Homo sapiens: one gene and its partners. The protein of the gene in region 1 purifies or fractionates together with the protein of each later gene. This does not show direct contact. Each region holds a gene or a part of one and is shown in the gene's direction. Other genes may lie near its edges.

Region 1 (3,500 bases):
GAGACTGGAGAGCTCAGGGAGATATGTAAAAGAGCTGGAAACGCAAACCTACCATCTTCCATCTGCAGAAAGGATCAGCTGTAATAGCTGACTAGAGTTGATTAACTGCTGCAAGCTGTTTGGGAATGTTGTCAGACAAGGTTTTGCCAAGTATAAAAGTGATATACCAGTGCCAGAGGGCTGAGGTTTGATGATCACATATGGTCATCACATATTCTTCTTCCATTCATGAATGATGACACACCCGGAGCCAGATGCTTGACATGAATACATTTTTGTTGTGTTCAATAAGTAGAGATATGAGCCCATTGGCTTTGGTTCTAAAATGGAATAAATTTTCCAAAAATATACCTTTGTTAATCATTCCAAGAAAAGAAAAATATGCCACCAATTGTTGAATATTCTACTTCTAAAGGGAAAGGTAATTTCCTCACTTTATACTAAAAGAACATTTATTTACTTTACTTTAAAGCAGTGCACATATAAAAGGATGAATGAGCACTTCCAAACTGTTATGCCATGAGTCTGGAAGAGACACAATATAAAATGAATTTTTAGATGCCAACTTTTCCCTAAAAGCCACAAAAATCAAACAAAATAATGAACATTTGGAAATAGTACATTAATCAATGAATAAACAGGAAATATACAATTAATATGTTCTAAATTTAAAAATTTAAATAAAATATTTTAACATCTATTCTCTTTTAATCAAGTCCATCCAATTACTATTGAGAATCTTGTTTCCATGAACAATTTGAAAATATACATATATGAGTGTTTAGCTATATAATGTACATTAAATCTAAGAGTAAAATCAATAAATTCTTTCCAAATTAAATTTACATGTTCATACAGTCAATAACATTTTACTGTATAGTGTCAAAGAATAATTATTATAGTCACCTATACATAAGAGTAATGAGTTAAAGTCTACAAAACATGTAAATATCCAATTTATTTTGAAATACATATATCAAATGGAATCATTGATACCTGTCAACTTGATTTTTTTTAAATTAATTATTAAGCCATACATCTAATCCTCTCATTGTATTTTCATTTCTACAGCTTTCATACTTAAGGAGTTAAGTTTTACTTGCCATGACACCTAAACGTATAATTCAATCTGTTTAAAGTTTCCAAAATTGCTAGTCTATCAATGAATAGAAAAAGAATGGAAAATGCCCCTTTGGGCCATAGTTTGTAAGTGGCTATGTGCTATTTAAGGAAAACTACAAGAACAGCCTAAAACAAACAACTCCCTTAAATCCAGGAGATTTTTTCACAGAGAGAGCAAATCAAATGTTATTACAGAGGATGGGGAGGGTATAAGAGTAAAGAAAATAGGAAAGGTACTCAAGTTTCATGTCGTCACTTAAGACTTATTTCCCTTAAATTTAGCGTAGTGATGTCCGTAAAGAAACAGAATAGAATGCATGTCAGAATTGATGTCCATTTACAAGTTCTGTGATGGTGGGCAAATTACTTAATCTCTGTGGGCTTGCTTCCTCACATTTAAAATTAATGATATTTATCTCTCTGAGTTTTTGTGAGGATTAAATCAGATGCTGTCTAAACATCTAGCACAGTGACTACCTTATGGTAGTTATTCAATTAAAAAAACTGTTATTGTTGGATATTAGAGAGGTACTACTTTTTCATTGTCAGGTGGACTTCAATTAATAGTTTCTAAATTTCAATACTAGAACTTGATTCATGACAACAGTATTCAAAGTACCTAAACTCCCACTTTATTCTTGATCACACAGATCTCCATTTCTAAGTTACTTTTGCTTAGATCAACTACTAAATAATAACATATATCCTTGTTGAGGCTTACCACTCCGTTTTCCTCAGAAGATAACAGAACTAATGCAGTACACTACTAAAGACTTGGTCTAGTATTTTTTTTCTAATAAAAGCTTTCTTATTATTGTTAATTTAGGTTTTAGAATATCTTAGATCATAAATTATTTTTGGAAAAATATTTTTTGTGAATCTTAAAAAAGAGGCCACACATATTATTTTATCAATAATAAGGTTTAAATAGAGAAAATGATATTAGTTTTACCTTCACCTTAGGACATACAAGGAGAATGAGGGAAATCATGTAGCTTCAAATGTTCTGAGATTGTGATGTCCAATCAATACCAAATTTTAGTAATGACTGGTTAGTTTAATAGTTACTGGTGAGTTTATTAATGCGAAGGGAGAATATGGTGAAGAAAATTTTAAGGTGAAAGGAAAAATGAAGCGTTAGAAAATACAATGATCAGCAGCATATTTAGTGTTCATGCTTTTGCATTACTGGATCTTCAAGTACTGAATATCAGATTGAAAATAAACACAAATAGGCCAGGCACAGTGGCTCATACCTGTAATGCCAGCACTTTGGGAGGCTGAGATGGGTGGATCACTTGAGGCCAGGAATTTGAGACCAGCATGGCCAACATGGCAAAACCCTGTGTGTCTACTAAAAATACGAAAATTAGCCGAGCATGGTGGCGTGCACCTGTAATCCCAACTGCTCAGGTGGCTGAGGCACGAGAATTGCTTGAACCTAGGAGGTGGAGGTTGCAGTGAGCCAAGATGGTGCCACTGCACTCCAGCCTGGGCCACAAAGCTGAACTCTGTCTCAAAAAATAAAAATAAAATAAACGCAAATAAATTTCTTTATAAGAACATAACTTTCATATTTCCTTTAAAAAGCAATTTGCATTACAGATTTTTTAATTTAATCATCATTTCTCAATTATCTGTGGATACTTTATCTCTGTAAATTAACTTTATTTTTAATTACATAAGTCAAATCTTGTAATGTATTTAGTGCCATAACATTTATTTGACTTAAATTGGTATTTTGTTGGCATCCACAGGAACTCATTTTTATTTTTAGTCCAAAGGAAAGTGTGAATGAGAGAAAAATGTATACAATAACCTTTCAGGTTTAACAAATATATTCCATCACTGAAAGATATGAGTTGCAGTTTGACAGAGTGATAGTAGACGTAGGCAGAGGTTAAGAGGAGAGGCCAGGCATTCAAATCATTATTGTGTTGTTTCATGTCTTCTAAAAAAATTGAGTTGTAAAACATCTTAAACATTATAATTCAGAGATTGTTTAAAAATCTTCACAAACTCTTGTTTTCAAGATCTACTCTAATTTTCTCATTATTGCGGAGTTAACACAGAGTTAGTTCTGTCTCAGTCTCCTTTTTCTTTCTTTTTCTTTTTTTTTAATTGAGACAGAGTCTCCCCTCTGGGGACTAGGCTGGAGTGTACTGTGCACCACAACCTCGACCTCCCAGGATCAAGCTATCCTCCCACCTCCACCTCTCTCCTGTGTAGCTGGGACTAGAGGCGCACGCCACTACAGCCAGCTAATTTTTGTAAAGACAGGGGTTTGCCATTTTGCACAGACTGGTCTCGAACTCCTGGGCTCAAGCAATCTGCCTACCTTGACCTCCAGAAGTACTGGATTTATAGGCATGAGCCAC
Region 2 (3,500 bases), on another chromosome or scaffold:
CTTCACCTGGCTGTTCTATATCATTCATAATGTCCTTTGTAATAAACTACTAAGTGTAAGTAAAGTGTTTCCCAGAGTTCTGTGAGCCATTCTAGCAAATTATTGAACCCACAGAGAGGGTGGTAAGAACCCTGTGCTAACCATTCAGTCGGAATCATAGGTCACAACCTGGGACTTGTGATTAGTGTCTGAAGTGGGGCCAGGCTTATGAGACTAAACTCTTAACCTGTGGGATCAGACACTGTCTACCTGGAGATAGTGACAGAACTGAATTGAATTATAGGACACTCCGTTGGTGTCCATTGGAGAATTGTTTAGTGTGGAAAACACTCTCATCTGGTGTCAGACCTATTGGGAGGGTATAGTAGGAGAGAAAAATGTGTTCTTCCCAGAGTATTACTTAAATTTTGTTGTTATATTTATGTAGTATACAATGCAGTTGTTAAAGGTAAATCTTGGCCGGGTGCAGTGGCTCATGCCTATAATCCCAGCACTTTGGGAGGCCAAGGTGGGCAGACCACTCAAGACCAGGAATTCAAGACCAGCCTGGCCAACATGGTGAAACCCCATCTCTACTAAAAATACAAAAATTAGCCAGGTATGGCGGTGCACACCTATAGTCCCAGCTACTTAGAAGGCTGAGGCACGAGAATTGCTTGAACCTAGGAGGCGGAGGTTGCAGAGAGCCGAGATCACGCCACTGCACTCCAGCCTGGGTGACAGAATGAGACTCTGTCTCAATAAATAAATAAATAATTTAAAAAATTTTTTTAAAAAGATGAATCGTAGGTATTGACCTGGGAAGCTGCCTGTAATATAATGTCAAATTAATTAATCAGGTTATACAACAGTGATGATTTCTTTTAAGGCTATGTGAAAATATGTTTATACATACAAATTTGAAGGATATACACCAAAGTATAAGCAGTAAGTAACTTTGAGAGGTATGATTATTAGGGAATTTTAATTTATATGTAATGCAATTTTGTAATATTTGCTTTTTTTTTCAGTAAGCCTGTATTACATTATTCCATTTTAAGAATATAAATAAATAAAAATTGATTACTTTACAACCAAACTGTGTGCCCTACCACAAAAGCACATGAAGCTGACCCCTGATGATTTGGGAAAGAAGTGCTATTCCGTACAGGGTCTATGTAGTATTAAAGGTTTCTTGTTGGACACAACCAAATAATAGTAGCCAAAGTCTGTTAATCAAGCTAACTTCACTTGTCCTGTGGCTGGGAAGATAATTCACGCTCAAGTGTAGTGTCACTTCTCAGCAGGACTCATAAATCAAGAATAATTGAGGAGGAAAGCAGTTAAGATTTGGTAAAAACAGGAAAAGCTCTCAGAGAGTATAGTGTATTCGTGTGTTTATTTCAGCAGTAAATCTTAACTATTTGTGAAAGCTTAAATGTAGATATAACTACCCACAGGAATGGAATTTTAGCTAACATTTGAGATGTACTAGGTATGTGAAGCAAATAACTGGTTCTGAGAGGCTTGGCTAAGGTGAAGGACAAATGTAGCAGCAGAAGAGAATTGCAATAATAACATTATGATACAAAAATTCTATCTTAGTGTGTTGGAGCTGCTATAACAAAATACCTTAGACTGGATAACTTATAAATAATAGAAATTTATTGCTCATAATTCTGGAGGCTGAGAAGTCCAAGATCAAGGTGCCAGCAATTTTAGTGTCTGGTGAGGGCCTCTTCCTTACAGATGGCACCATTTGTGTCCCTACATGGCAGCAGGGGCAGGGCAGCTCCCTTCAACCTCTTTTATTAGGACACTAATCCATTCATGAGGTTGGAACCCTTATGACTTAATCACATCCCAAAAGGACGCACCTCTTAATACCAACACAATGGGGATTATTTCAACATGAATTTTGGAGGGACACATTCAGACCATAGCAAGTGTTTATAGTATTAGGACCTATGGCACATACTGCAGAATGCTAGTATTGATTCCATAAGAAAATCGCCTTTTATGGACTGCTTGTCACAGTGCAGTTTCTTAGGTCTCATGTGTAAATTTCCTAGGTAATTCATATGCACATGCTGAGGCTTGAGGACCACTGTCACAGGTTTTGCACAATCTTCCTTCATTAAATAGCTGTTGAATGAATAGCATCTTTTTCTCCCCCATGAGAGCCAATAATTGGCCTTATAAGTTACAGAAATTTTTTTCTCACATTTATTCAAGTAATATTTACATTTCTTCCACCCACTAGACATTGTTTGAGGCCCTGAGGGATACAGTGGTGAACAAGACAGGGTTTCTGTTCTCTCATTGGAGAATTAGGACAAAATGTTAACATGAAGGATGGGTTGGGTTGGAAGGATGGTGCTATGGTTTGAATGTTTTCCTCCAAAATTCATGTTGAACTTAATCCTCAATGTGTAGTATTAAGAGGTGGAGCCTTTAGAAGGTGATTAGAAGAATTAGTATCCTTATAAAGTATACCAATAAAAGACTTGAGGGAACCTGTTGGGCCCTTCTACTCCCCTTCCACAAAGTGAGGATGCAGAAAGAAGGCACCATATTGAAGCAAAGAACAAGCCCCTTACCAGACGCGAAATCTGCTGGTGCCTTGATCTTGGAATTTCCAGCCCCTAGAGCTGTGCAAAATAAATTTCTATTATTTATAAATTACTGAGTCTGTTATTTTGTTATAGCAACCTGACTAAGACAGGTGGAGAGGACTGCTTTAGATTGGCTGGTCAGGAAAGCCTCTCTGGAGAGGTGGCCTCTCAACAGAGACTTAGGGGAGGGTGGCACTGGGAGCAGCCAAATGTGTGACCGTCTGAGAGGGAAGCATTGCAGACAAAGAGAGCAGTTGAATAAAGCCCTAAAGTAACAACAAGTTTGGTGTTTTGGCATGTTCAAGGAATGGAAGAGCCGATGGCTGAAGCATGATGATTAAGGAAGAGAGTGGGCTGATAGTAGGCAAGGGTCTGATTATGGAATAGTTCCTAAGCCGTAGTAAAGAACTTGAAGTTTTTTCCAAGTGCAGAAGGAAACAGATGGATAATTTTAAGCCAGGGAGAGACGGAAGTTATTTACATTTTAATAAGAGAATTCAGTTCTTATACAGAGAATGGAGGGGTATGAGGATGGAGGAGGGACATGAATAGAACATTTGAGCCCAATTAGGCTCTAATGCAGTAGCCCAGTGAAGATGATAGTAGCTTGAACTGTGGATCTGAAGAGAAGTGTATGATTTTGGGATATATTTCAGAGGTAAAGCAGACCACACATTGCAGTGGATTCGATTGGCGGGATGGAGTGAGACGTTAGAATGATTCCTTGTCTTCAGCTACTGGATGGATGGTGTGGCCTTTATTAATATGAAGAAGATGAAGGAACTTTGAACTTATCCAGGTTCTGGTGATTTAATTCTTTCCTGCAAACAAACATTTTTTATTTGTAAGCCAAAATGCAGATTTAGTCATTTCAATGGGTTTGCTCCCTTTCACTAGTGGTTTGCA
Region 3 (3,500 bases), on another chromosome or scaffold:
TCAGGTTGTTATCCCTGCTCAGGGCAAGTTGTCATCCTCATAGCTCCTCCTATTTTTTTTTTGAGACAGGGTGTCACTCTGTCACCCAGGGTGGAGTGCAGTGGCGCAGTCTTGTCTCACTGCGACCTCTGCCTCCTAGGTTCAAGCGATTCTCGTGCCTCAGCCTCCAGAGTAGCTGGGATTGCAGGCACCCACCACCATGCCCGGCTCATTTTTTTGTATTTTTAATAAAGATAGGGTTTCACCATGTTGTCCAGGATGGTCTTGAACTCCTGGCCTTAAGTGATCCGCCCACCTCAGCCTCCCAAAGTGCTGTGATTACAGGCATGAGCCACCATGCCCACCACCACCCCCCCCCCCCCGGCTTTTTTTTTTTTTTTAAGGAGACAGGGTCTTGCTCTGTTACCCAGGCTGGAGTACAGTTGTGCAGTCATGACCTCATGGGCCCAAGTTACTGCAGCCTTGACCTCATGGGCCCAAGCAATCCTCCCACCTCAGTCTTATGAGTATCTGGGACTACAGGTGTGTGCAGCCTCTCTCAGCTAATTTTTAAATTTTTTCGTAGAGATTTGGGGGGCGGGGCCTCACTGTGTTACCCAGGCTAGTCTCGAACTACTGGCCTTCAGTGATCCTCCTGCTTTAGCCTCCCAAAGTATTGGGATTATAGGTATGAGCCACTGCACCTGGCCGCCTCCTGCTTTCTAAGCAGCTGACTAATCAGCTGGGAGACATTCATTTTGTTCATTTCAGCTTTCCCTTATTGGCCTCATCTTCTGGTTTTTGGAGATCAGGGTCATTAGACTCTCTTTTAGTTTCAAAGCTAACTGTTTTGGATAGTACTTCTTTGGGAAAACCTGAAAGAAGTTTGGGTGGTATTTTAGATACCTTGGTGGGTTGTCTGTGTTTATCAAACTGGAAGATGGAGATGTAAGCACATAATTGACATTTATTTAGTCCTCAAGATCAAAACATATTGTCTGTATTAAAGTTGATGCATTGTGTTTCTTTGGTCCTCTTGGATTTCCAGTCGAATACAGGCCAATTTTCTGGTTTCAGCTATGTCACTTAATGCTGGGACTGTTCATTGCCACCAAGATTCATGCTTCTTGCCGGTGTAGCTGCCATATGAGGGAAGAACTGATTCTGTGGCAGAGTATGAGAGCATTTTATGCTTTACGGTTAGGATGAACTCTTGTATTTGAGCAAAGGTGTGCTTAAGGTAGCTGTTTCCTGGGATGGCAACTCTAGGTGTTTTTCATGTGAAATCGTTATTTTTGTGATACATATTCCTTTACTCTGGCAAGAAGTATTGAGTGTTACTATTTTAATCTCTTTGAAAGTTTTGGAAGTCTTGAATGAAGTGGATACCTGAGTGATACCAGTTATCAGTAATGATTGCTATAAATTCAAACACAAGTTTCCTCTTCTCAGTTAACATAATCTCTCTATGTGTGTCTTTGTCTCTTTCTTCTGTGATTTTAGTCTGGTGAGATTTGATCCACTTGGACACTACTTACTCACAGCAATTGTTAACCCCTCTAATCAACAGGTAAGTTAGTCCAGCAGTTCCAATTCCAGCTAAACTGTGAGTTCTTTTCTTAACTAGTATTCCAATTCTGATTATATTGGATTTTAATTCTCAATACCCAAGTCTTATCTTTCCAGTCAAGATTTAAAGCTAGCTTCAGACTGTATATTCAGGGTTATAGCCATAATCTTGACAGGAGAGTCGATTCTGAAACCCTCCAGTGATTGCCTCATTAGAAGTAACCCTTATCATCACTAGACAGTGTTGGATAGCTTGTCACTCATGTGCCTCTGGCTGGTTGACATTTTGCTTCCCCTCACTGCTTCCATGTCATGGGGAGATGTCTTTTGTAAGACAATTGGTTTGTCAGCTGCACTCATTCAGATATGCTGCTAATTGGGAGTGGAAAATTTAATACCATGTGATTATTTTGAATCTGAGGCCAGTTGTCAGTGCTTCAGGGGTAGAGAGTTGTTTCCTACCTATGAACATTGTTTTCCTTGGATGATTGTCAGTGGTTAGTTTTTCTTGATTTACTTGGAGGTTCTACCTAACTGCCTTGCTCTACCCCCTGCCCCATGCTGGTCCACGTTGCAGGGTGATGACGAACCAGAGATCCCCATAGATGGAACAGAATTATCCCACTACCGTCAGCGTGCCCTCCTGCAATCACAGCCAGTTCGCCGGACGCCTCTCCTCCACAATTTCCTGCACATGCTGTCCTCCCGCTCTTCTGGCATCCAGGTGGGAGAGCAAAGCACAGTGCAAGATTCTGCTACCCCCTCACCCCCACCGCCTCCCCCTCAGCCCTCCACGGAGCGCCCCAGGACTTCCGCTTACATCAGGCTCCGACAGCGGGTCAGTTACCCCACAGCTGAGTGCTGCCAGCACCTTGGGATCCTGTGCCTTTGCAGCCGCTGCTCTGGCACTCGAGTTCCTTCCCTCTTGCCACACCAGGACAGTGTCCCCCCTGCTTCTGCCAGAGCTACTACCCCTTCCTTTTCTTTTGTACAGACCGAGCCCTTCCATCCCCCGGAGCAGGCCTCGTCAACGCAGCAGGACCAGGGCCTCCTGAACCGGCCGTCTGCCTTCAGTACAGTCCAGAGCAGCACTGCCGGCAACACGCTCCGCAACCTCAGTCTGGGTCCTACCCGCCGCTCTTTGGGAGGGCCTCTGTCTAGCCACCCTTCTAGGTATCACCGAGAAATAGCTCCTGGGTTGACAGGATCTGAGTGGACCCGGACAGTACTCAGTCTGAACTCCCGCTCTGAGGCGGAATCCATGCCCCCGCCCAGAACCAGTGCCTCTTCGGTGAGTTTGCTGTCTGTGCTGAGACAGCAGGAAGGTGGCTCTCAGGCATCTGTGTACACTTCAGCCACAGAAGGGAGGGGTTTTCCGGCATCAGGGTTGGCAACTGAGTCAGATGGAGGGAATGGCTCCAGCCAAAACAACTCGGGCAGCATTCGCCATGAGCTTCAGTGTGACCTGAGACGCTTCTTTCTGGAGTATGACCGGCTTCAGGAGCTGGATCAGAGCCTGAGTGGGGAAGCTCCCCAGACCCAACAGGCCCAGGAAATGCTCAACAATAACATTGAATCTGAGAGGCCAGGCCCTTCCCACCAGCCCACCCCACACAGCAGTGAGAACAACTCCAACCTGTCCCGTGGCCACCTGAATCGCTGTCGTGCTTGCCACAATCTCCTGACCTTCAACAACGATACCCTGCGCTGGGAAAGAACCACACCTAACTACTCCTCTGGCGAGGCTAGTTCCTCTTGGCAGGTCCCCAGCTCCTTTGAGAGTGTGCCATCAAGTGGCAGCCAGTTGCCACCTCTCGAGCGGACTGAGGGCCAAACGCCCAGCTCCAGCAGGCTGGAGTTGAGCAGCTCTGCTAGTCCGCAGGAGGAGAGGACTGTGGGGGTGGCCTTTAACCAGGAGACAGGCCACTGGGAAAGAATTTACACCCAGTCCA

Evidence for each region. The genes of interacting proteins can lie anywhere in the genome.
Region 2: the proteins of PLSCR5 (region 1) and TTC1 purify together in Homo sapiens (affinity purification with mass spectrometry; one large-scale study listed by BioGRID and IntAct). This does not show direct contact.
Region 3: the proteins of PLSCR5 (region 1) and AMBRA1 purify together in Homo sapiens (affinity purification with mass spectrometry; one large-scale study listed by BioGRID and IntAct). This does not show direct contact.

What each region holds. Positions count from the first base shown.
Region 1 is NC_000003.12:146,595,347-146,598,846, reverse strand, and holds part of PLSCR5 (phospholipid scramblase family member 5), read left to right. Parts: intron 1-3,500.
Region 2 is NC_000005.10:160,015,639-160,019,138, forward strand, and holds part of TTC1 (tetratricopeptide repeat protein 1), read left to right. Parts: exon of another isoform or gene 1-3,393; intron 3,394-3,500.
Region 3 is NC_000011.10:46,542,024-46,545,523, reverse strand, and holds part of AMBRA1 (activating molecule in BECN1-regulated autophagy protein 1), read left to right. Parts: intron 1-1,482; coding exon 1,483-1,549; intron 1,550-2,125; coding exon 2,126-3,500. UniProt on the Homo sapiens protein: Substrate-recognition component of a DCX (DDB1-CUL4-X-box) E3 ubiquitin-protein ligase complex involved in cell cycle control and autophagy.